Regions from separate parts of the Homo sapiens genome. Here regions 1, 2, 4, 5 and 6 are each linked to region 3. Evidence: fine-mapped expression QTL. A gene starts in region 3. Each other region holds a variant in brackets. All regions are shown on one strand. Distances are between the middles of the regions.

Evidence for each region. PIP is the estimated chance that this variant, and not a neighbour inherited with it, causes the effect.
Region 1: its variant is fine-mapped to the expression of PHACTR1 in whole blood (TOPMed, PIP above 0.99).
Region 2: its variant is fine-mapped to the expression of PHACTR1 in whole blood (TOPMed, PIP above 0.99).
Region 4: its variant is fine-mapped to the expression of PHACTR1 in whole blood (TOPMed, PIP above 0.99).
Region 5: its variant is fine-mapped to the expression of PHACTR1 in whole blood (INTERVAL, PIP above 0.99).
Region 6: its variant is fine-mapped to the expression of PHACTR1 in whole blood (TOPMed, PIP above 0.99).

Annotation. Positions count from the first base shown.
Region 1 is chr6:13,284,628-13,288,713 of GRCh38, reverse strand. PHACTR1 (phosphatase and actin regulator 1) reads right to left here. Exons shown (of 15, transcript NM_030948.6): 14 at 2,492-2,568; 15 at 877-1,651. The coding sequence ends at 1,636. All of the region lies in intron 8 of TBC1D7-LOC100130357 (TBC1D7-LOC100130357 readthrough), which reads left to right. The region is part of intron 3 of LOC100130357 (a long non-coding RNA gene); the gene reads left to right. Among named protein-coding and RNA genes, the nearest start is that of TBC1D7, 42 kb to the left of the region's middle. The variant T/C (reference allele first, on the strand shown) is at 2,429.
Region 2 is chr6:13,278,601-13,282,686 of GRCh38, reverse strand. All of the region lies in intron 12 of PHACTR1 (phosphatase and actin regulator 1), which reads right to left. All of the region lies in intron 8 of TBC1D7-LOC100130357 (TBC1D7-LOC100130357 readthrough), which reads left to right. LOC100130357 (a long non-coding RNA gene) reads left to right here. Exons shown (of 5, transcript NR_160971.1): 4 at 1,134-1,258; 5 at 1,531-3,530. Among named protein-coding and RNA genes, the nearest start is that of TBC1D7, 48 kb to the left of the region's middle. The variant C/A (reference allele first, on the strand shown) is at 2,253.
Region 3 is chr6:12,715,057-12,719,142 of GRCh38, reverse strand. PHACTR1 (phosphatase and actin regulator 1) reads right to left here and starts at 2,376. Exons shown (of 15, transcript NM_030948.6): 1 at 2,247-2,376; 2 at 1,400-1,634; 3 at 296-444. The coding sequence starts at 398. The region is part of intron 1 of LOC107984015 (a long non-coding RNA gene); the gene reads left to right.
Region 4 is chr6:13,272,525-13,276,610 of GRCh38, reverse strand. It overlaps PHACTR1 (phosphatase and actin regulator 1), which reads right to left. Exons shown (of 15, transcript NM_030948.6): 11 at 3,696-3,751. The region is part of intron 8 of TBC1D7-LOC100130357 (TBC1D7-LOC100130357 readthrough); the gene reads left to right. It also overlaps a transcript of LOC100130357 not described here. Among named protein-coding and RNA genes, the nearest start is that of TBC1D7, 54 kb to the left of the region's middle. RefSeq lists enhancers at 2,121-3,320, 4,032-4,086. The variant T/C (reference allele first, on the strand shown) is at 2,443.
Region 5 is chr6:13,201,207-13,205,292 of GRCh38, reverse strand. All of the region lies in intron 7 of PHACTR1 (phosphatase and actin regulator 1), which reads right to left. Among named protein-coding and RNA genes, the nearest start is that of TBC1D7, 130 kb to the left of the region's middle. The variant T/C (reference allele first, on the strand shown) is at 1,955.
Region 6 is chr6:13,228,266-13,232,351 of GRCh38, reverse strand. It overlaps PHACTR1 (phosphatase and actin regulator 1), which reads right to left. Exons shown (of 15, transcript NM_030948.6): 10 at 2,159-2,315. It overlaps LOC105374933 (a long non-coding RNA gene), which reads left to right and starts at 2,379. Exons shown (of 4, transcript XR_007059456.1): 1 at 2,379-2,831; 2 at 3,233-4,086. RefSeq lists a silencer at 2,761-2,850 and an enhancer at 3,021-3,080. The variant G/A (reference allele first, on the strand shown) is at 2,399.

The sequences.
Region 1 (4,086 bases), 570 kb before region 3:
TGCCCTGAACTCTCCCCAGCAGTTGTTTGGCTCCTGGGTTAGTGCCTAGATGGGAGCCGTTCATGCCTGCAAAAAAATGCAATGGCCTCGTTGACGGGTGTGCATCCTAAGAGTAACCTGCTCCCACAGGGTTTGTGGTGGGGAGACGACTGGTTAACTTTTTGGAAAGGCCAAGCTGGCGTCTTTCTAAATGGCATGTGTGGTGGAGAGTTCCACCACCTAGAAAGACTGGAGTAACGATGGAGTCACTCCAGAAGGTGAGAGAGCTCTGCAACTGAGGGCCTGCGAGCTCTGTTATGAAGGAAATCGAAAGCTGCAATGGGCCTCGTTAGGATGCTGTTAGGGTTTAGGAGGGTCCTGGCCTCATCGCACACCCTATCCTGGGTGTCCCAGTCAGAGACACACCCACAGTCACGCTCCCTGGCATCATGAGGGTAGAGGGAGGAGCTCTCTGGATCAACTGGAGCAGGAAGGGGCACTGTGGACAGGTGTGGCTGGTGTTGGCCTGATTCTGGCACATGCCCAACTCTGGGGCTCCTTCACAGAAACTCTTCAGTGCAAAAAAAAAAAAAAAAAAAAAAAAAAAAAAAAAAAAGAGAAGGCCATGGAGTGGTTCCAAGTCCCTCAGTGGCTGGAAAGCCAGTCCTACAGGAGTGGTTTCTGGCCTGCATGCACTGGTCCTATACACAGAAGCTAAGAACTCCCAAGCCATATAATCAGCTTCAAGGCGCACAGAGAAAATAAATGTCAGCCAAGCAGTTTCTGACCCCACAGGATTCAATAGGGTCCTCCCACTCAGACTTATAAACAGCACAGGAGTACCTTAGCAATGGCTGTGTGTGTGCGTGGGTCACTCATGACACTGGACACTCTGGACACAGTTGGGTTGATTATTTGAACTGAGCATATGACATCTTTCCCCTTCTAAACCAGAGCTTCCTGAAAGGCAGCTCAGCTCAGGCAGAGGGAGCAGGATGGGTGCTCAGTGCCAGCCTTCGTAGCCAAGAGGCAGCCAGACTCCCCCAGAAATGGGCCCTTCCCTTTTGTTCATTGTGTGGGTGGTGGCTGAAAGGAGGGAAAAGCCAGGGGCAACTGAGAAGTGTTCACTCCTTCTTGGCATCAACTTCAAAGGGCCCCCAAACCAAATGTCATGTCTGGAGCCAGTACATTTGGCCAAGTGTAGAAGTCCAACCAGATCATTAGCTTTGCACAGTACCCCCAAAACAAACCCACCCCTTCAGCTTTCTTTGGACTCAGATGACAGACACTTGTGAGGAAGAGGTTTGCTGGAGACTTCATGAAGGTAGTGCCTGCTGGGCCTGGCTGGAGAGGACAAGGACCGTTCCACCTGCCAGACAGTCTTCAGTCAGGGCCCTGCTGGTGCCCTTGGCACTGCCGGGGGTTGGGATGCATTTTGGTGTCAGAAGTGGGACCAGCAGCTCGGACCGCCGAGCCATCACTTTTGCGTTTTCACACATAAAATCCTGATTGTGTTTCCTTGATTTTTCTTCTTTTTAAAAAAAAGGCAGTTCAGAAGATTTACATCGTAATGGGGAAGTGAATAAATACCAGCACTTATGGTTCTTATAAATTTATGTTTTGAAGACAGCATAGCACTCAAGAGGAATTCGACTGTTAAGGTCGGTGAAACCTAAGGAAACAAACAATTACATCAAGACCAAGGGGCTGCCAAAGGTGCAGGATTCAACAGTCCAATCTCCCATCTTCAGGGAGGTTCTTGACCGTGAGAGGGAGGTGCGAGCTTCCCACCGTCATCCCCACAGGAGTACCACTGAACACACACCTGGCTTTGAAAGTTTCATCTGGGGCAGCCCTGGTGGCCTCCACCTCCTGCCATCAGCCTGGATCCAGCAGCAAGGTGCAGAACCCAATCTGTGTCTCTGAGTCTCTAGACTAAATACTTGCTATATCCTATTTCTCTAAATGTTCCCCCCAAAAGAAAGTCAGAATTAAATCAATGGCTCTGTTGCTAACTAGCAATGCAACCTTATATAATCCTCTTAATCACTCCATGCCTCGGTTTTCCCAAATATCATCATGATGCTGGACTGTCAGGGAGAATGTCAGGGAATAACAGAAGTGGTCCACTTTGGAAGTCCCGTGTGGATGTGGTATTTTGTTCAGGTTTGGCCTCTGCTGACTGGTTGCAAATTGGCAACAATCTTTTCTCCTTGACCTAAGTTTTCACAAAAACCCACCTTGGGGTCGTTGGTAGTCTGGTGCTTATCAGACCTTTAGTTTAAATGAGTGAAACTCAGACTTTGCAGAAAGTTGGTTTTAGCCCGGGCCATCTGTGTTCCACTTCCTCGTTTCAGTAACCTAAAGTGGAACCGCATGCCTGCCTTCCTACTATCTTCCCTCTCATGGCACCCTCCAACCCACTCATGTCCCACAAGTGGGAGAGCTT[T/C]ATTTGGAGATAAATATTGCAACTTGAGGGAAAAAAAGGAAAAAAAAAACCCTTAATACTAACCTTGTTAAGTGTCTACTCAATTCATGAACTTCCATCTCAGTGCTTTTGAATTCATTGAGCTCCTTTCGGATGGCAGCCTGGAATCAACAGAAGCCCATCAATGTGCAATGGGAGAGAGACAGAAAAAAACTCCCCTTTCAGTTCATTCCTAACAACATATTTTTCTTCTTCAACAAAGACAAACAAGTTTAAGATGGATTCTTTCATTGGGAGGAAGAAAAATCACCTGAGATGTCCTTTAAAACAAAGATTCCCCTCCTTCCCTAAATCTAAGTTGCAAATGATGACAGGCTATTGCCCAAAGTGTGTTTTTCTTCCTCTTTTCATAGAGCTGTGGCATTGAGGCATCAGTGGTGGTGTACACCTACCCCACACTCCTGGGGGCCCAAGAACACATTCAATGTCAACCTCTCATCTTCCATAAATAAACAAAGCTCAGCACAGGCACAGTGATGCCTCGAGGTGGAGACTTCCAGAAGGCGTGGATCAAATTCTCCAACCAAATTAGGGGGACAGGTGATGGCCAGCTCCCTACCAACAGTTTGTTTTTGCTCTTTTACAACTTCCCTGACTCTTCAGTGATGTATTTCACCATGTGAGATACATTTTGAATAACCTCACATGTTCTGAGATGATCCCGAATCACCCCATCCTTATAATACTGCCACTGAAGACACAGGGCCTGGAATCAGACAGCAAAGAGAGGCCATGAGAGAGCAGGGGAGGAGGAGGGGCTGGTAAAGAAGGCAGCTGGGGCCAGAGACAACCTCACTCCTTCCTCAAGGGTGGAAATTGCAAACGTGTGCCTTCTTGCATAGCTCTGTCTATGGCCGATACTTGCTTTGATGGGAATATCAAGGCCCCAGGAGTTTGAGGAGAGAAAAGTCTTCCTGTAGGATCAGAATGGCCCTCCCCAGGAAAAGAAGGCTGGCTTAGGTTTAAGTGCCTGGGTAGCAGCTTTGGGGGTGGGGGCAGGGGTCACCCCATGCTTCCTGTCTTCTGTCCCCAACAGCCATTGAGAAACTGGATATGTTTTCGGCCTAAGAGCTACTCAGAACTCTATGAGGGTGCAAGTAGAGATGTCTGTGGTTTTCTTGCACACTTGCTAATATCCTTATCCTTGCAAGCATACCGCAGAGAGAGTGTGGACAGGAGAGGACAAGAGTGAAAGCCCCTTCCTCTTCGTATTTAGATGACACACTCCTGGGGAGCTGGGTTTGTCTGTCAGGGGCATGGCAATGCCAGTTCCTGGGTTGCTCCCACAAATTCCCTTGCAGAGAAGATGTGAATGCTGTGTTTACAGAGGAGGGCACAGTCTTCCACACATGGTGTCTGTGGGTTGACCCGCCACAGGCGAGGTCGTCTCTGGAAGTCTATCTGCCTCTTGCTGCTTCCGTCCCAGCCAAGTGCAGCAATGTGCCTGCATACATGTTTCCTGCACCTCCTGGATCCAGGGTTGGTGATAATGTAGCCAGCCTGGGCCATAAATGACTTCCTGCTGTATCATATAAGAAAACCCTGGGTCCCTGAAACGGACAGTGAAGGCAGGACTGTTGAGCAGAAGGCCCCTGACACACTCCATAGTTTCTATCGTT
Region 2 (4,086 bases), 560 kb before region 3:
GGGTTTTAGATGCAAAAAAGCGTATGTGCAAATGGTATGCAAACTCTGGGGTATGCAGGGATGGGAATCTGCTGGCTGAAGAGGTCAGCCCAAACATTGCTGACGGCCCTCTGCAAGAAGTTCAAGGGGAAGGTCAGTCAACAAATGCGGAGTTGAGTAAGTACAGAAAAAGGCCACATTTATGCCAAGGGAGACTCAGGACCAGCCCTTTGGATGGTGCATGATGAAGGACTGCAGGAATGAGGGATGAAGCAAGTAAAAGGAAGATTCGTATGTATTTTGCCATCTCCCGATATTAGCCATGAAGACCCTTCCTCTACTTTAGCAACATAAGGCTGACATTTCTATTATCTCTTCCTGTCACCAGGTTTATTTCTCCTGGAGCAACACAGTTGCTCTCTTTAAGATGCTGTCAAATGATGTTCAATCAATGCTATTTAAAAGCAGTTTTCCCTTTGAGCCCTAGACTCTGTGTAATTCTATTACTAGAAGACACTATCTCATAGAATCTTGCAACTCAGGCCCGTAAAACAAACACAATGGAGTCCAAACCACCCTGGCAGTTTCGACTCTGCAACAGGCAGCTTCCAGACACCCGTGGCTAGTGCGAGAATGTTCCAACTTGCTCCCACGCTGGCAGAGCACAATTAGAGGATGGCTGGCAGGTATCAAATAGAGTGGTGGCACACCCCGGACAGGGCCAAGGCAGGCCTACAGCTCCCTCTCAGCCAAAGGCAGGAAGCTCTGGGGATCAGGGGCTCAGCCGCCTCTGGTGCCGGCCCCCCTGCCTAGACTGCATGTAGGCCTCCCTTGGCTTTCTTAGGCACGACAACATTCTGGCACCAGTGTGGGCCTGTCGCGGGAACCCACAGGCTTCCCAGGCTGTTATGGCTGTGGTCACCGTAAACAAAAACAGCAGTCATCCTGACTCCAAAACATGTTCTCCACAATGTGAGTGCAGGGAGATTTTGTGCTATAATTAAAATACATAAAGACATGCAACATTTGCCATATTTACTCCAGATAAACAGACTCCTACTCAGAATCCTGTCTGTGTTCCTCAGGACTTGCTGGGTTTACCTCAAGGGGCCAGACAAAGTGTTATTTTCTTTTCTTCATTTTTCTTTTTTTAGACGGAGTCTCACTCTGTTGCCCAGGCTGGAGTTCAATGGTGCAATGATCTCGGCTCACTGCAACCTCCGCCTCTTGGGTGCAAGTAACTCTCCTGCCTCAGCCTCCCGAGTAGCTGGGATTACAGGTATGCGCCACCTTGTCCGGCTAATTTTTGTATTTTTAATAGAGATAGGGTTTCGCCATATTGCCCAGACTGCTCTCGAACTCCTGATCTCAAATGATCCGCCGTTCTCAGCCTCCCAAAGTGCTGGGATTACAGATATGAGCCACCGAGCCCGGCCCAAAGGGTTATTTTCTGAGTGCACCCATGATGTGAGAAAAGTTGTTAAGCCCTGACTTTCAAATTTCTCTTCCTGGAAACTGACCTGGATTTTACTAATGTCCTATCTATGGCAGAGTCTGGAGTGAACCGAAGACTAAGCATAAATGCTGCAGGTCAGGGGCTGTTTCTTATGCCTGAACATCGCGGGGCCTTGGACACCGTCTTTCCAAATCAAGACAGCATAGAGCACAAGTGCTCAGAGGGAATGAGCGAGGATGCAGCTGGCTGCTGCCTCTCAGAGTCACAGTTGGTGCACGGACCCCAGCACTAACAAACGGCCACCAGGACGCTCCTCTGTGTGCATGGGCTCATGTCCCTGACCACGAAAGGCTCAGAAGACGCACCTTTGGCCTGGTGCTGGCTGTAGCCTTCGGGGCATCTGGAACCTGAAGTCCTTCCTTGAATGCTGCAAAAATAATCTTTGCAGCCAAAGTCAGGCCCGCCTCGGCCTCCCAAAGTGCTGGGATTACAGGCGTGAGCCACTGCGCCTGGCCGCAGGCATGTCTTTTTTAAAAAGACAAAGCATGTAATTTTTATATTAGTCTCAGTTTGGTCAGAGAAAATGACTGGTCTGTTGCTATCAGCCTCAGTTACTACGCTTTATTTTTTATTTTTCTTACTAGTGCATTACAGTTAAATAGAATTTTATTGAAGAAGTTATTGGGCTGAAGGCAGATCACTGTAAAGCAGCCCCCATCACTGGCATCTGGTCTCAGTGTGATAAATGCTCAAGAGGAGAAGAACCTTCACAGGGCCAGGAAGTGATGATGTAGGTTCCCTACCTGCCGGAAGGCGC[C/A]ACATCTCTGCCCGCAAAAGCAGATATGGAAGTTGCCCCTCTGTTCTCCAGTCTCTCTCTTAGAAGCAGTTATCCCCTCTCAAGCTCCTTATTTCTAACCCCCCCAGCCAGTCCCAGGGGAGGGCAAATGCTAAAATTCCAAGGCCATTTCCCTGGGAGAAGAAAGGAGAGGTGAGCAGGAACAGAGAGGCAATTATTTGATTGTGGAGACCCGCAAAACCTATGAACTATTTGGGGTCCCCATCCCTAGTGTCACCTACCCTAGGGAGATGGGTGTGGAAAGGAAGACTCTTTACTCGCTCATTACCAAATCATGCAGTTAGTCAAGTTCTCCGCAAAATCATATCAACTTTGTTAAGAGATAGGAATTAAATAAATGTCTAAGTATTTCTCTGTGACCGTCTTTTAGCAAGCAACCTTAAAACTGGGTGAATTTTGGGGATCCAGCAACCAATTCTGAAAAATTTGATGAAAATCTGATTTAAACAACTTTTTTTTTTTCTAAGTGTCTAGACCTTTCTGTATCAGAAATGAAAGTTTATCACAGTGTCTTTTTCGAGCCCCAGTCATTTCAAGGACACGATGAGAAAAAGCTAATGCATCTCTCCTGCTCTTCTCACTACTCAAGCTCAGGAAAAACTGCACCCTGCATCCAAAGAGTGGGTGGGCTTAAGGATGTAAAGGGTCCAACCTTGACGGGTGGGACAGCGACTGGCTGGTGAAGTCACTTAGCTCTTGCTCTAGTCTCCACCAGGGTGACCCCAGCCAGTCGTCTGGCCATTCAGGCACTTGTTTGTCCAGCTCTTGCTAATTGGGTTGGCATTTGGCTTGTCACCAGGTATTTGGGATGCTCGCAGGGAAAGTGTGGAGAAATACAAACCATCACCTTAATAATTGGTATGATATTTCAGGATCTCTGAATTTCTTCCTTTGTGTGATATTTCTGGAGAGAAAAATCCACTAATAAACCTTTTTAAAATTAATATTAATGGGCCTCTTAACTGTAGCTAAGATATGAGAGTATCTTTCTCTCAAGATGGTCACTGTAGGAGGCTGATTAAAAACACTTTGACTTCGTCAGACAGAAGGGAGTATTGTATCTTGCATGTCATCAATTAATTAAACTTTTCAGCATCATCCAAGAATAGCCTTAACAATGCGTTTATTATTAAAGAGGACACTCATGTGGAATGAGATGCATGCGAGGCTACAGTGCATTGCCAAACCATCTATTTTTGGGGTTAAGACTATATTAAAATTCCAGTTTTATGACTTTAAGCTATGTGCTTCTCAAACATCTGCTTTAAATTTGTCAGTACTTTCGTAATTTAGCCTAATAAAGTTGCATAGTTCTTAATTCCTAGGGAAAGAATAGTGTCAGGGGGAGCAAAAAAAAAAAAAAAGTCTATACTTTCCCAGGGTCATAGCAAATAATTGTGTAATATTCGAACTAGTAATTTTTTTTTTTTTTTGAGACAGAGTCTTGCTCTGTTGCCCAGGCTGGAGTGCAGTGGCGCGATCTCGGCTCACTGCAACCTCTGCCTCCTGGGCTCAAGCAATTCTCCAACCTCAGACTCCCATGTATCTGGGACTACAGGTGCACATCACCATGCACAGCTAGTTTTTGTATATTTACTTTGACAAAGACAGCATTTTACCATGTTGCCCAGGCTGGTCTCGAACTCCTGGCTTCAAGCTATCCACTCACCTTGGCCTCCCAAAGTGCTGGGTTTATAGGCATGAACCACTGAACCTGGCCTTTGAACTACTGATTTTGATTATGAATTTCCCATTGCTTAATGGGATTATAGTGAATTTTGTAAAACAAAACATT
Region 3 (4,086 bases):
TTCTTTTTGGACATAAGTGTTGGACACAGGTGGTAGGAAATCATTTCTAACATAGCTTTCTGAGGGGCACTTACACCAAAAGTTGGGCATTTTTTTAACCACATCCAAGAAGTGTGGATTTATTTATTCTATTATATACCTGCCTCAATTCCAGCAGCAGTTTGGTAGAGGTTATCAACTTAGAAATACCGGTTATTAAACTTTCAGAGCAAGGCTTTAACAGCTACAGCCTACATGGCTGTTCATATAAAACCGACGTGCAAATAAGAGGAATTTCTTTTTCTTATTTTATTACCTTGAGCTCCTTGACTGTAGAAGAATCTTTGAGCTGACTCAACATCCAAGAGTCTGTGAGCAGACTCTACATCCAGAAAATAATCCATTTTGGGATAATCCATCCTTGATGTTCCAAACACAGAGTTTTGAGAGAAAACACTGGAACACCTATAAAGAGGAAAAAAAAATCCACAATATTTTAGACGTCAAGTATAAAGTGTATATATAGATGTACTTTAAAATGTTTGAATAAGAATATCCCATTATAATATTCTACTACTTGATTGACATTTGCAATTCTAAAGCCACCCCCCAGCATAGCTTTCCTACCGTGTGAGAAAATGCCGCATTTAGCCAACATTCATTAAAAGTAATATATTCTACTCAGGAAAAACAGATGATCTGATCTAAAGAGAGATAACATACCAGCCTTTCCTTGCTTTATATTCTCTGGAACATATACTGTTAAATTCACATGCTATCAGTTTTCAAAAGGTCTATTTGATAAATAGCGTCATTAAGTGTCAGCCGTTGTGAGTGTTGATCCTCAGCTCATCCTGGGACTTTCGGATTCCCCTGGAGCAGGGAAAATTGCCTGGGAATCCGAGCCTCCACTCATAGATGCCGTGCGTTTATGACACACACTGACATATTTGCTGTACAAATGCTTTGAATTCCTTCCTTTCCGGCGATTCCCTTCAGCACATTTTATAAAGTGCTAGAGGATCGTCACCTGCCTGTGCCTGGCAGGGGCTGATTTTTGAGAAACAATTGTGGTTTGTAGAGCAGCAAGAATGATTGCAGCATTACAGTGATCCCTATATTATCATACACTAGCCTGTCACAAAGCTAATATACTTCCCCAGAAAACATTCAGCCTGTTGGGTTCTTTTTTCAAGCCTATGTAGCCTTTCCCTGATACTCACACAAATGAATTATCTCTATTTCTGCAGAATATTTTTTTGGAAAGAATTAACAAGACAAAGTCATTAAAACCAAGCTTGGAAGTCTAATCCAATTGGTTTCTCTTTCTAACAGTATGTATTTTAATTTAAGAAACCAAGTCCGGTAAGACAAAACTTTTAAAAATACCCAAAGGTACCCCAATAGCAAATATACTTACTGCAAAAAATAAAAATCAAAGGCTATCTGTCAGCGGTAAAACAAGAGCCGTTCCAGCCAGAGTGTCTTTGATCTTGCTAAATATTCCCGGTGAAAGTAAACGATTTTGATTGTTTGATTAGAACAGTGATGAATAATGCATACAGTCCACTGGACTTCCTTTATCAGATAAAATGGCCAGAGCACGTTACCTTAGCAACGGAAGGTGACGCCAGCCTCAGCCTCTGCACCCTCCCCTGCGAAGGGAGAAAATTACCAGTTTCCCGTGTAAAACTTTGGCAGAAAATCATCAAATCCACATGCATACATCATGCAGGGCTATTCCCCAGCCCCCTATCTCTTAGGCAGAGAAGTGCCATAGTCATTAAAAAAAAAACAAAACAGATTTATGTCTTCATTGTTTATTTTCATAATCCCAAATCTTAGTTTGATTTGCAGCTACAAAAGAATAGAATATGAAATGATTAAAAATTTAATATATAGAAAAGTTGTCTAGAAATTTTTGTGGGGGCACCAGTTATTACCCTAATGCTGGCCTAAGAGTGGCAGGGAATGGGGGAGTTTAGGGAAAGGCCATTTTAGCTTAACATACGTTAGACATTCCCCTGTTATAATTAATACACAGAACAGCCACCGGCATCTAGGCTGAAAATAACTCTTCCCTTCTGCAAATCAGTCACTGGAAGAAGCTTAAAAAGCTGTCTGAAATTTCCCAGATTCTGAAAGACATATTATAGCATAGATTTTGTGGGAGATCCCCACTCCCCCCACAACCCCCATCCCCGGCAAAGGAAAATTAGCCAAAAAGATATTTGAAAGGAAGAGTCTGGAAGTTAGCGGATACTCACCGGCACTTGTTGACCCCTTTCAACAGGACACGGTAGAGTACAAAACAAAGCAGTGCGACGCTTCTGAGCCCGCAAGCACAAATGAACAGCTTCTAATTTTCCCTTCAATCTCGCTTCAAGAGCACTGAGCAGAGGGAAGTGATGGATTTGCCCATTTATACTGTGATGAAATGCAACCCTTAAGAAGAGATCTGAGTGGAGCTGCTCTTTAGAACACATTAGACTGCTAATTTAAGAAAATTGAAAGGTTTTGTTTTACTGTCTTTTATGTGTTCTTCTCTGCTACCCCCTCAATTTAATTTGCATTTAAAATTATTCTCATGTCTCCTCAGCTCTCCAAGGTGTGGAGTACTTTCTAATCATGAAGGCTGCTCCAGTAGGGTTTGGTGCAACACCACTTTTATGCTGAGCTGCAAAACAAGGCAGGTAGTCATAATTGTGAGCTGTTTTCTGGAGCGAAATACAGAGGGCACGTTTGATGTCACCCCTTCCCTCTTGCCTGGCTTTCTTCCTTTCCTTGCTTCTGATTGCCTGGTCAAATATCCAGCGCAGATCATGCCAGTCTGCCTAAATGCATTTCTCTCTGTCTGAATGTAACAAAATAATACCAACAACAAAAATAAACTTTGGCTAGTATCTCAAGTTATTCTGGTTTAATATTCTTCCTACCAAACCTCAGTAATGACTTTTAGGCACAGTACTTTGAGATCTTCATGCAGGGCATAGTGATAGCCAAATGCAAGCCCTACTGTGGGTTTTCCACAACCTCTTGCACCCTTTGTTGACCAAGCAGAATTGCTCATTAGTATGGTGTGGTGTACAGTGGGTCAGCTTGTTAAGAAAAGAGCATTTACATTTGATAAGCCTCGGAAGGAAGACCATCAACACCACCCCTGTCCCCCCACTCCCTATACACAGCTCGGCTGGCTGCCCTTGAAACAAACCTGAAAATCCTCTGCTGTTTGTTTTGTGGGGTCTCCCTCTCCCACCCGATCAGAACAGATCAGACACCAAGCCGGTGCTGCAGACAGTTAAGCCTCATGAAAAAGGAAGCTGAAACTACCAATCATATGCCCTTGTAGGAAAGTCAACTATGGACTCTGAATTCTGAAAGCTTTGCTCCAACCCAAGGACTGACTTCTTTAAGGTTACTTTTCTATTCAGCACCCACTGGAGACATGCTGAACACTTGACATTTATAAGAGGAGAAAGCTGTCTTCTGGTTCCTTTTACTTACTGTGAGGTGTGGGCGACAGGTTCTGAACTCGTTATTGTAATTCTACTGAAATTGTAATGACTCATAGATGAGAGAAAGAGAGAGAGAGAGAGTATAAGTCTATGCTGCTGACCAAACCTTTAGGTGAGTGCAAATGAATGTGTGATTGAAGAAAGAGATGCTAAACTGGAAATGTGAAAAATAGAGTTGATTCCCAGGGGGTAGGTGGTGGATTTGGAAGTCAGTCATTTCTGGAGAGTTGACCAAGAAAGAGAAATTTAAAATACTTTACAAAGTGAACAAATAATATGAAAGGGTCGTAATTTAAGAAAACTCAGGAGGGAAAATTTCAACTTAAAGAAATGTATTTGGGGCCGGGCACAGAGGCTCATGTCTGTAATCCCAGCACTATGGGAAGTCAAGGTGGGTGGATCACCTGAGGTTAGGAGTTCAAGACCAGCCTGGCCAACATGGTGAAACCCCATCTCTACTAAAAATATAAAAAATTAGCCAGGCATGGTGTTGGGTACCTGTAATTCCAGCTACTTGGGAGGCTGAACAGGAGAATCGCTTGAACCTGGGAGGTGGAGGTTGCAGTGAGCTGAGATCATGCCATTGCACTCC
Region 4 (4,086 bases), 560 kb before region 3:
TAGTAGAGATGGGGTTTCACCATATTGGCCAGACTGGTCTCGAACTCCTGACCTCAGGTGATCCACCCGCCTCAGCCTCCCAGAGTGCTGGGATTATAGGCGTGAGCCACCGCGCCCGGCCTTGGGACAGGTCTTTAAAGGAAGGAAACCCCCTGTGCCTAGAAAGGGGTGGGGACCATCTGATAACTGTGTCACCTTTACACTCAAGGTGACTATACCTCCCACTAGCACAAGTGGTGTAAGGTCAGAGCAGAAATCAGGCCCTTGAGGGCCACCCCCACGGGCCTGATTTGGCCCCCCAACCGCCTGTGGGCATAAGGCTTTGTAGAAAGGCAGCACAAGAAACAGCCACATCTTGCTGTGGGCTGAGGTCACCAGAGGTCCCTGCTCCAGCCTACCCTACAGTGCCTGAAACCGTCACCATGAGTGTGCTTTCCTTTGGATTTAGAGATCCTATCTCCCTCCCGGAGAGGTTTTTTTTTTTTTTAATGCAAATTTCTCTTGAATAAAAGCCCATTAAACTAGTCAGCCATTAATAGCTCAGTATGAATTAATCTAGTAGAGATAAACTGGGGGGCAGACAGCAACACCCGGAAGTAGGGAGCCCCCAGACAGTGACATTTGTACAAATGCAAATTTCAGTGGGATAAAACCTATTAAACTAGTCAGCCATTAATATCTTAGTATGAATTAATCTAGCAGAGTTAAATGGGGAGGCAGACAGCAAGAACCAGAAGGAGGGAACTCCCATTTTGCGATGTCTCAGGTGGGAAAACGGATGGAAGAAAAGGTGGTCTGGATGTTGGGTCACCAGGGACAGCTAGAGGGCACACGGTGAAAATTTACAGAAGCACAGAATACTAGGGCCATGAGGGGACCTAGTGACCACCTCGTCTACCACTCCTGGTTTATAACTGAGGATCTGAAGCCTCAGGGGTGTTAAGTGGCCAGTCACACCCTACCTGGCTCAGTGGTTACACAGATAGGTTTTTTCCTGTGGTCATGTTTTGTGTGGGGCCGGCTCTCCTCCTCATTACTAGCCTCAGACTTCTGATCCTACAGGTCCCTTCAGAGCCGTGAAGGCGGGCATCCTGTGACACAGCTGACACAGCATGGAGCCTTCATCTCCTATGTGCGTTTCTTAGGTCACTCTGAGGGGTGGGGCCACAAGCTACCACCTACAGAATTGATACCTTTAGTTCAAAGCCATTGACCAACCCAGGTTCATGAATTTTCAGGCAGAAGGTACCAAGACAACCCCATTAGGCAACTAGGAAGACAGGCCAGGAAAGGCCTACGATGTCGTCATTACAGCTGCCACCGTCAGAGGGTTCATTATGTGCTCAGAGGTGCACAGGGCCTCACTGGCTGCTGGACAGAACAGGGGCTGCTCCCAGGACCAGGCAGGGTGGGGCTGGAAACCAACCCAAGGCTCTCAAAGCTCCAGGGCTGAGCCATGGCATCTCTGTGCCCTGTTCCCCACCACCCAACACCGAGCAGTTCCTCAAATGGCTGAAAGCTCAGAAAATCAGTTTTAAAACAAACTATTGGAGGATGTTTTCTTATACCACTAGACATTTTTTTTGTTTAACAATCGCAATAGATTAAATTTAAAAAAATATTTAGGAGAACATAGTTCCAGAATACAGGGAAAAATAAGAACCTATGGGAAAACAAGTTGATTTCTGAAAAGTTTCAAAACTATGAAATGACCAACCTGTTAGAATTGGTCAAGTAGTTCTTTAATTTGCAACTATGTGGCCAGGACAAGAGGGATTAGGGAAGAGAATAAAAGAGAACCATGGGAACAATCTTTCACAACTCCTTTTTGGTCCCCTGAATCTAAGTTCCCTGGTTGATGGCGGTAAAAACCCAAGCTCAAAGGACCTGTAGTCTCCCAGGGATCTGGACAAGCCACAGCGGGGATCTGATATCTTTGAGAGAGCCCAGAGCTGAGCTAGGGGATTTTAGATCTCTCCAGAAACCGTACTCCTGGTGTGATAAGCACTATTTTCTGAAACCTAAATAATCCCCCGGAGGCTTTTAGCTTCTTTGAGTTTAGGTCTCAGGTCAGAGGCCACAAGTACAGCAGCGGGCTGTGAGTAAGTTGTACAGGTTCACCTGGCTGTTTATCTTTCTCTCCAACAATGGGAAGTTTATAATGGCTCAGGTACCAGATTGGGGCCGAAAGGAAGACATCCTACAAGCCAAATGCTTCCCTGACCTTGGAAATGCTTTGAAAAAGCTCTGAATTCATTATATAGAATATTAAGCTTGGAAACTTTAAAGGGTACCCCTTGGGCAGAAAAAAGTAAACACACATTCCTAGAGACCTAGGCAAAGCGTAGGGTTCCCCCACGACTGAGGAAGGCTAATCCTGAAAATAACTTCTACTGAGAGTTGAGGAAGTGGCGGCTGGCGTGGGGACGGGAGGCAAGACAT[T/C]GATAAAGGCAGAGTTGACATAAACGGACATGCGGGGGCGTCGGGCGGGGGTGGGTGCTGTAGGCAACAGGTCTCCCCACCAAAGCGGAACCCAGCACCCACCTTCAGCAGACTACGAAATGCCGACCAAGTCACAAGGCCACAGTGAGCACGGTAGAAAGGTAAAGTCAAGAATATCTTAGTGTGGTTTCAGTGGAAATTCCCGGCAAACTCACACTGCGGTTGCATGTGATTTACTGGGCACGGGGCGGGGCGGGGCGGGGGGGCCGGGGGAGGCAAGGAGTCAGTCTGTACAACATAGCATTTCTAGAAAACTCTGCATAGTATATATCTTTCTCTTCTGGAGAGAAATTAGAAGTGTGTTGTGGGGTAGGGGGAACAGGGTCATGAATTAAGCCAGAAATATTTGTTCACTATCTTGAGGCCAGTGTTGGCGAGAATGGTAGCAATGAATGAATAGAATGGTTTGATATTTAAGTTATTTAATATCTACCACTAAACTGACGCATACTGCTGTCCATCAAATGCTTGATCTCTTTTAGTATTTTGTATCCTGTTTTCTCTTTTTTTTTTTAAAGCACCAAGTGGATCCTCTGTACATATTCAAATGTCTCTGTGTCCTAAACCAAACAAGGGGCTCATTTATTTTTTTCTGTCTGCAGCAATGGTGAAAGGCAGTTTTCCTCGAATGAGAGCATCAGACAGGCATGCCCGGGACCAGCTGTGGGAATCCTGAGAGACAGACATGAAGCACTTCACTTGGAAATGCTTTCTTAGTCTTTCAATTTAACATTCAAAGGGATGAGGGATTTTTATCAACAGCAGCCAGCTGCAATGCAAAGTCATGCTTTCTAGTCTCAGTTCAAATGGACATTTCCCTTATTTTAGCCGTGCATATCACAGTCTCCATTTTCAAGCCAATTCTGGTTTAAAGGTGACCCTGCTCTTAAAAATCATTAAATAATAAGTGGTCTCACTCTAATTTTTCAGCTTCTCTCTGACTTTACAACTCACTAAAAGGAAGGTTCTGCCTGCCGCCCGTGAGCTTCTAAAGAATAAAGTGGAATAAAATTTGCCTTCTCTTTGGGGAGGTCGTCTTTGGTGTTCTAACATGCACACATGAAGCTTCAACCGTTAGAAAGGTTTTCAATGCTTTCCGCAGAGGCGCAAGGTAGAAACCTTGTGGCCTACCATTAAATAATAACAAAAGCCGCCACAAAACATCAGGGATTGCCATGGGCTTAGTCACTTACGTTTCAAAATGTTCCTCTGTTCCAGTTCCTCTGCAGTTGGCCTCTGGCTCAGCCGCCTACGGAAAAAATCCAGGAAAAGTTTTTGGACCATATCATAGCCTCCTTGGGTCATTAATTTCCTCGGCCCTTGCAGATACATGAGACAGTCAGTGGCTGGAGTTCTTGTTCCATCCTGTGCTCTGAAAGACTGACTCTCGCCACCACCGCCTCCTCAGTTCCTCAATTTCAAGCCCAGGAGAGGCACGTGCGTCATGTCACAGCCGCTGACCCCCGCCCTCCTCCCTGCAGCGGCCCCTCCCCAGCCCCATCTCCTCCAGTGGCCCCAGGCAAGTGGACTGCAACTCAGACGGGACTCTTTTCTTCACAGAAGTCCTTTTCTTTCCTTGTGGCC
Region 5 (4,086 bases), 490 kb before region 3:
GGTGGGTGTGAGCGAGTTCGAGCTCTCCCAGGAACGGACTAGTTCCCAAGGAAGAGTGGGTTGTTAAGAAGAGTCTGGGTTCCTCAGTTTCTCTCCTTTGCTTCCTCTCTTGCCATGTGCTCTCTGCACACACCAGCTCCCCTTCTGCTTTCCTCCATAGGTGGAAGCAGCCAGAGGCCCTCACCAGAAGCACCATGTTTCTCATACTTCCCAGTCTGCAGAACTGTGAGCTAAAGAAATCTCTTTTCTTCACAAATTACCTGGCCTCAGGTATTGTTACAGCAACACAAAACAGACCAAGACATGCTAGTCTACAATATATGTCTACAATTTTGCCATTATGATGTGAACAGATCCTTTCAAAGCTGGAACTTCCCAACAGGCATGGGATTTAAAGCCAGCCCTAGGGTCAAGTCCACCAACAGCATGCCACTCTGCAAGTGCCTTTACTGCTGCCAACCTTAATTCCCTCTTCCATCACCTAGGGACGACCATCCTGCTTTGAGAGGATGCTTTGTGAAGATTAGTTTTTGCAGATCCTGGCTTGGGTGCACGAGTGGGGCAGGAGTGAGAGTGACTGCTGGACTGGTGGGCCCACTCAAGTGTGGGCTACTGAAACAGTAAGGAGGCTCCCACAGGGGATTCCAGGCTGCTGGAACCTACCTAGGACCAACTGCTGGGTTCCATGACAATGCCATTGAGCTTCCTAGAGATGCTCCACATTTGAGGGGCTCAGGGTCAGACTAGACCCCAGGGCATTTCTGGGAAGATGTAGCCTGCTGCCATACCCCACATTTCTGGAGGGGAACCTGGTTGAACCCTGTGGGTTGTAGGCTTGCCTGGGAGAAGCATGGTCTGGAACAGCACAGCAGGGAGGAGTAGGGAGTCTCAATGCCCCACTGGCACCCCGTGTTGGGGAGCACCACGCAGTTCTGACTCTCCATCTCGGAGGCCATAGATTCTTCTCTAATGATCTATCTGCCTTGAACGTGGCCTTCCTCCAGTCTAACTTACAGTCCTGCCAAAATGACATTCCTAGAGCACAAATCTGATTACGTAGCTCCCCAGTTTAAAACCCATCCATGGACTAAACCTTCCTGATACATCATTCAAGGCCTTCCATGGGCTGGCTCCTGCTTGGTTCATCTCTTCATGTCCACATTGTACCTCTATAAAGTCTGCTCTGGTTCCCCCAGTTGGAAATAACCTTACCTATGGCACCTGAAAAGCTGGAGCAGAATCTCTCCTATGGCCCAGATCACTTCTCCTGTGGATTCTACTTATTTGGTGGCCCATGGATTCAGGGTCTCCATGCTCAACAAAGTTGACCAGGTGGCCTTGGCCATTCTCCCAAGAGCTGCTGCAGTCTTCCCCAGCCTCCTCCAGGATCCTCACCTTCCACAGATGCCTCTCCCTATCCCAGTGAGGAACTGAAGAGGAGCACTCACGGCTTCCCCACCTCCCATTTAGTTCCAGCCCACTTTTCTCACCATTACCCAGACCATCCACCCTCACTCCTGAACTGCTGAGTTTCCTAAACTGCCTGATGTTCCCATAACCCTAGGCTTTTGCATGTCACTTTCCCTCAGTTTAGAATATTCTCCTCTGTTTTGTCTTCTTGGTCAATTACTAGTCGCCCTTCAAGATCCACCTCACAAACAATCACCCCTGAAAAGCCTTCCTTGATCATTACATCCCTCTTCCCACTCTGTGGAAAGAGAGTGGGAACGTGGATGCATATTATGTCCGTGTTAATCGTGTTAATGATGATAGCAGGAATGACGACAGTCATGATAATCAAGACTTCTATCATGCTTACTATGTGCCAGATACTGTTCTAAGGGCTCTTTGTATTCTAACCGGTTTAATCCTTACAACAAGTCTGAGGTAGATGCCATTATTATCTCATGTTTACAGATGATGAAACAGGGTCTCTGAAGACACTATGCTGCAC[T/C]TCCTGTTTACATAACTGTCTCCTCTCCCGGAGAAGAGTGACAGTGTGTAATTTATTATTGTACCTCAAACCTCAGCATCTTGTTCAGTGACCAGCTCACATCACAAGAGATGCAAATCATGTTTACAGAATGAGCCAAAGTTATGATGATCTGCTGTGGGATGAATTCACACCTTCCCCAGAAATAGATACTCTAGGAGGGAGATGTGAGCCTGAAACAGATTACAATTTTAGGATCACGCAGTTGTGGCATATGGACACTAAACTTCTGATCCTACCGCTGAGACACAGAAAATTCTAATCATTTCAGGGGGCCTGATAAGATTGCTCCCCAACACCAGAATGCAAACCAGTCATAACCACAGGCTTCCGCATGTTCATTCCTGAGGGCTTGTCCTGTTCATTGTGACCCCTCATGCACATGGTGCAAGGTCACCACATTCAGGAACTTAACAGGCAGGCTAGCTAGTTCCAAAGTGCTGAGACACGGAAAAACTCAACACCATTGTCCAGCTCATCTTACTGAAGGGTCCACTTACATAGCTCTTAGAAGCTTCAGTGCAGGCGGGCGCGGTGGCCCACGCCTGTAATCCCAGCACTTTTCGAGGCCGAGGCAGGTGGATTACTTGAGGTCAGGAGTTCAAGACCAGCCTGACCAACATGGTGAAACCCCGTCTCTACTAAAAATACAAAATTAGCTGGGTGTGGTGGCAGGTGCCTGTAATCCCAGCTACTTGGGAGGCTGAGGCAGGAGAATCACTTAAACCCAAGAGGTGGACTTTGCAGTGAGCTGAGATTGCACCATTGCACTATAGCCTGGGCGAGTGAAACTCTGTCTCAAAAAAAAAAAAAAAAAAGCTTCAGTGCAAACCTAGCAAATGCAGTATGTCCTGAGGTGTTAAGGATTTTGCTCCAGGACCCTTAACCCATAGTCCTTCATTTGAAGACTCTGATTCTCTAAGGCAAGTAGGTGCTCATTTGCTTGGTCAGGAGAAAGAACCAGGAGGGCAGAGTGGAATTCTCTGCCTAGGAAGGAGCAGTGATTATATTGAGTTCTGCCCATCTTGTTAATCAATAGCTTCTCGTAACATTCCACCACTTCTTGTGACTTCTTCCATAGCAAAACCTACTTGGTTTCATCACTAGAAAATTGGCCAAGTGAGCCCCAGCAATTCTATGGAAACAGGCAAGGAAGAAAAGGCCAGCTGGACCAAGTTAGTGGAGACGGTTGTTCTTACTGTTCCAGGAAAGGCATGCTGGGGCCTTGGGGAACCCCCCTCCTTCTTTCCTGCTGCATCTCCTTTCTGGTCATTGTGATGCACATAGCTATGAATTAAAGGGCAGCGAATAAAAGCAAATCATTTAAAATCATTTTTGGCTCAGTGGATTTCATAAAAATGAACAAAAGTAAGAAAAGGGCTAAAATCAGGTAGAATTACTTGCTTTCTGTGAATTAGCCATGCAGTCTCTATCTTTCCCTAAAATTGTGGATAACTGAGGAGAGGCTGGGCAGCTCATGTCTTTGTTAGAGTGGCAATGCCTATTTGTATATTTTTACAACATCTTAACACCAAGTCATTCCCCATAACATAACTAGAGGCACGATTTGGAACCAGCTGCATATTATCTGTCATTCTGAACTTCCATCTAAGCTTTTAATCTCCCTTTTCCCACTCAGACTTCTGTATTCTCTGGCTTCTTGACCACTACACCAGTCTAGACACTCATCTCCTCTTATCGTGTGGATAATGCGGTCCCAGCCCTCTGATCTGTCCCCACTCTGTACCAGATATCTATCTCCCTACAGCACCTGCTGGGCATGCGTGAGGTCCATGATGGCTCCATGCTCAGTCCATGCTGCAAGTCCAAGTATGACTCTGTCTGGACTCTACTATGAGTCTCCCACTTACATCTCTCTCGTCCACTCTGGCCTCTGGATTTCCCGATAACCACGCTCCTTCTCTCTTCAGGGCCTTTGCTGTACTCACCTCCTGAAATGCCTTCCTGTTCCTTGATAATAAAAATTGCATTTGCCCCTCAAGCGGCAAATGAAGACCCGCTTTCCTCTGGCAGCCTTTCCTCCCTTAACTCCTACAACCCTGGTGGTCAGCAGCGCCAGTGAATTTGGCTCT
Region 6 (4,086 bases), 510 kb before region 3:
TATCCTCCAAGAGGAAACCAAGTTAATTTTGAAAAAGAAGCTGCTCTTAGGTAGCAAAATAAATCAGGTGGGAGGGAAGAATACTGGCATACTGTTGGATGATGCCTATGTCTACATAACCTCTAGGCACCACCTTTCTCACTTGTACAATGCAAAGGTGATGGTGAAAACAGGTAACTGATTGCTTGCTATGGGCCAGATACTGTTTTAAATACTTCTATTAACTTGCTTAATTTTCACAACTCACTCTTTTACATATGCAGAAACACAGGTAAGGAGAATAAGTGACTTACTTAAGGCTATACACCTAGTAAGAGGGAGAATCAGAATTAAGCCCTGGTAGACTTCCACACATTATGTCCAGGCACTCACAACAGTGTCTGGTACAAAGTAAGGGCTCAAGAGAGAGAATTCCAGAGCTGTGCTGTGTGACATTATGCAAAGTAACCAAAGTTCTCTATGCCTGGTATTCTCATCTGTAAAATGGGTATACAAATGGTGTATCTTATAGACAGGCTCAAAGACAAACAATGTAATACATATAAAATGTTTAGAGAATGGTGGCAAATAGTAAGTACTCAACAAAGGTTACCTAATGTCACATAAACATGCCCTTGATTACAAATACATACATGGGTGGTTAATATCTTAATATAACATAAAGCTATGCCCATGTCTGTAATATCCATACATAAAGGGCAATCACTCAAAATGAGTCCCAGTGGAGTAATGAAGCATCACTACCAACCACTTAACCGTATATCAGAGAGTGTGTTTGTCTGATTGCTTTGTGCTTAATCAAACCACACCTTATCTCTCCATAGGTCCTCAATTCTATTACATGATGGAGGCTGTTCTTCCTTCCTTCCTTCTTTCCTTCCTTCCTTCCTTCCTTCTTTCCTTCCTCCCTCCCTCCTTCTCTTTCGCTCTCTCTTTCTCTTTCCTTCTTTCTCTTTCCTTCTTTCTTTCTCTTTCCTTCTTTCTTTCTCTCTTTCCTTCTTTCTTTCCCCTTCCTTCCTTCCTTCTTTCCTTCCTCCCTCCCTCCTTCTCTTTCGCTCTCTCTTTCTCTTTCCTTCTTTCTCTTTCCTTCTTTCTTTCTCTTTCCTTCTTTCTTTCTCTCTTTCCTTCTTTCTTTTCCCTTCCTTCCTTCCTTCTTTCCTTCCTCCCTCCCTCCCTCCTCCTCTTTCGCTCTTTCTCTTTCCTTCTTTCTTTCTCTTTCCTTCTTTCTTTCTCTCTTTCCTTCTTTCTTTTCCCTTCCTTCCTTCTTCCTTCCTTCCTTCCTTCCTTCCTTCCTTCCTTCCTTCCTTTCTCTCTCTCTCTCTTTCTTTCTTTCCTTCTCTCTCTCTCTCTCTCTGTCACCTGGGCTGGAGTGCAGTGGCACAATAATGGCTCACTGCAGCCTTGACCTCCTGTGCTCAAGCCATCCTCTTGCCTTAACCTCCCATGTAGCCGGGACCACAGGCATGTGCCACCACATCTCGCTAATTTTTGATTTTATGTAGAGATGGGGTTTTACTTTGTTGCTCAGGCTGGCCTCAAACTCCTGGGCTCAAACAGTCTGCCCACTTTGGCCACCCAATGTATTAGGACTACCGGTGTGAGCCACCGTGCCTGGCCAGATGATGGAGGCTTTTCTACAGATGATTATTCTCCCTGGAAACCTGCCTCTCAATTTCTCCCTGAACCTTGAATCAAGTGAATTTTCCAAGATTTGGATAAATAAAGGAGAGGGCACTATAGAAACAACCTTGGAGACAAAATGGGATGTTTTCCATTGTCTCTTCCTTTTTTTTTTTTTTTTTTTTTGAGACAGAGTCTTGCTCTGTCACACAGGCTGGGGTGCAATGGTGTGATCTCGGCTCACTGGAACCTACACCTCCCAGATTCAAGCAATCCTCCTGCCTCAGCCTCCCGAGTAGCTGGGACTACAGGCCACCATGCCTGACTAATTTTTGCATTTTTAGTAGAGATGGGGTTTCACCATGTTGGCCAGGCTGGTCTTGAACTCCTGACCTCATGTGATCCACCTGCCTCGGCCTCCCAAAGTGCTGGGATTACAGGCATAAGCTACTGCGCCCGGCCGAGACTGAATTCTTTTGCTAGAACCTGGAGAGCTAAAGGCCCACTGCCAGGGAGGCAGAGGGTGCCGCTGTCCTACCTGGTGAGCTTGGTGCCAATCTGTTGCCTCAGCTCCAGCCGCTCCTCATCCGTCTGCCTGGGAAGGATGTTCTTTTCTTCCAGCTCTCGCTTGGAGGGCCTGTTGCTGAGTTTGATGGCTAAGGAGTCCTTCCTGCAGACCTTCATGGCCAGGGAGCCTGTAGGAGACAGAAATGAGTCAATTAAGGCTTACATATCTGCCTGGGCTCCCACAGGGCCAACCCTGGGTCATAAGATACAA[G/A]GCAGGAAGGAAGTCATCAAGGTTTTAACACCTGAAAGTGGTTAATGCCTCAGTTCCTAGAGTTCCTGCCATTGCCACACACTCTACCCCTAGCACTGTGTGGGGCACATGGACAGCACATGGGGAACCTGTGATTGGGTCTCTGCTCTCCAGGAATGTCTAGCACGCAGGCAACATCACAAAGGAGGGCAGGACTGGCTGTGGGGTGCAGTGGACTGCAAAGGGGGAGATAGGACAGAGGCTTTTAGCAACTAGGGGAAGTTTCACGAGGAGGAGGGGCTGACACCTGAAGCAGAGATGAGAGTCCAACAGGCAGCAGGTGGGCGGGGATCTGTGTCTGCAGAAGTTCAGCGGTGAAGGCTACACCAGGAAATCTCAAGAGACAGAAAAGATCAACTACACTGGAGCTGGGGGGACGTGAAGGAGAAAAAAGGTAGGCGGACAAAGTGGGGCTGGTTGGGGGTGGGAGTGGAGGTGAGGGCTTTGAAACACGCAATATCCTGGGATGGGTTTTTTCTTTTCAACCCCAGCATTTCTGAGCAGCTGAGGCAGGGCTTCCCTACATCTGATATAAATCAGTGGTTCTCAACCAGTGGTGATTTTGCTCCCCAGGGAACACCTGGCAAAATCCCAAGGCATTTTTTGGTTGTCAAAACTAAGGTGGCAGGCAGAGGGTGCTACTGGCATCTAGCGGACAGAGGCCAGGGATGCCTGTAAACATCCCACAGTGTACAGGACGGCCCCACACCAAAGAATTATCTGGTCCCAAATGCCGGGAGTGCTGAGGTTGAGAAACCTCTGTATAAAACATTTAATTCTCTGGATACTGAACAGCAAACAGGGGCTGAGCAGCTGCTCCTTCCATTCATGGATCATTGAGGTCTCTGGCTGCCCTGTGTGGTTCTTTCCTTGACATCACTTGGATCCCTTCATAGCTCACCAGGTCTTACTTGGAGCCAGCTATTTGAAGCCTGGTAAGTAGAGAGCGAGAGAAAACGCCAGCAGGCAACAAGTCTGAGGATGGCTTTGGGCTTGATTGAGTAGTGCTTTTCTTCTTTCTTCCTCCACTAGTTTTAGAACATGAGCTTCAGAATGTGACAGAGCCCGCATCAAACCCCAGCGTTGCCCCTTAGCAGACGTGAGGCCCTGGGCCAGCGCCTTGTCTCTCCATTTTCTGCCCTTATCTGTAAAATGAGGCAATAGTGTCCATGCCTCAGGGTTGTTGTGAGATGTAGGTGAGAGATTAAAACCGTAGCCCATTGTCAGGCACACAGTACATGTTCAATGCATGGTTGCTATTCTCATAAGTTCATTTATTAAAAAGTTGGCCAAATATCAGGCTGTACTCACGTAACTAAAATTTATTTACTGTTCATGGCCAGAGTGATAGGTTTTGAACTTTGCTTTCTTCATTTCTTCTCTTGTCTCTTAGCACATTTAAAGGTCATAAATAAGAAATTTAAATTGAGGCCTTCTAAAGTTGCTGAGGTATGCTTAAAAAGTGAATTTGTTGCATACACAGTGAGTAGTATTTGAGTGTTTGCTAGACAGGGACAGAGTTTTAAACTTCTTAAAGTTTTTTTTGGGTGGGGGAGAAGTTGCATCCTAAGAGAAGCAACAAAGAAGCCACTTAAAGAGGTAGGAGGTGGCAGTAATTTTTAGAGCTAGGAGGGAATTTAAGGAGGGCA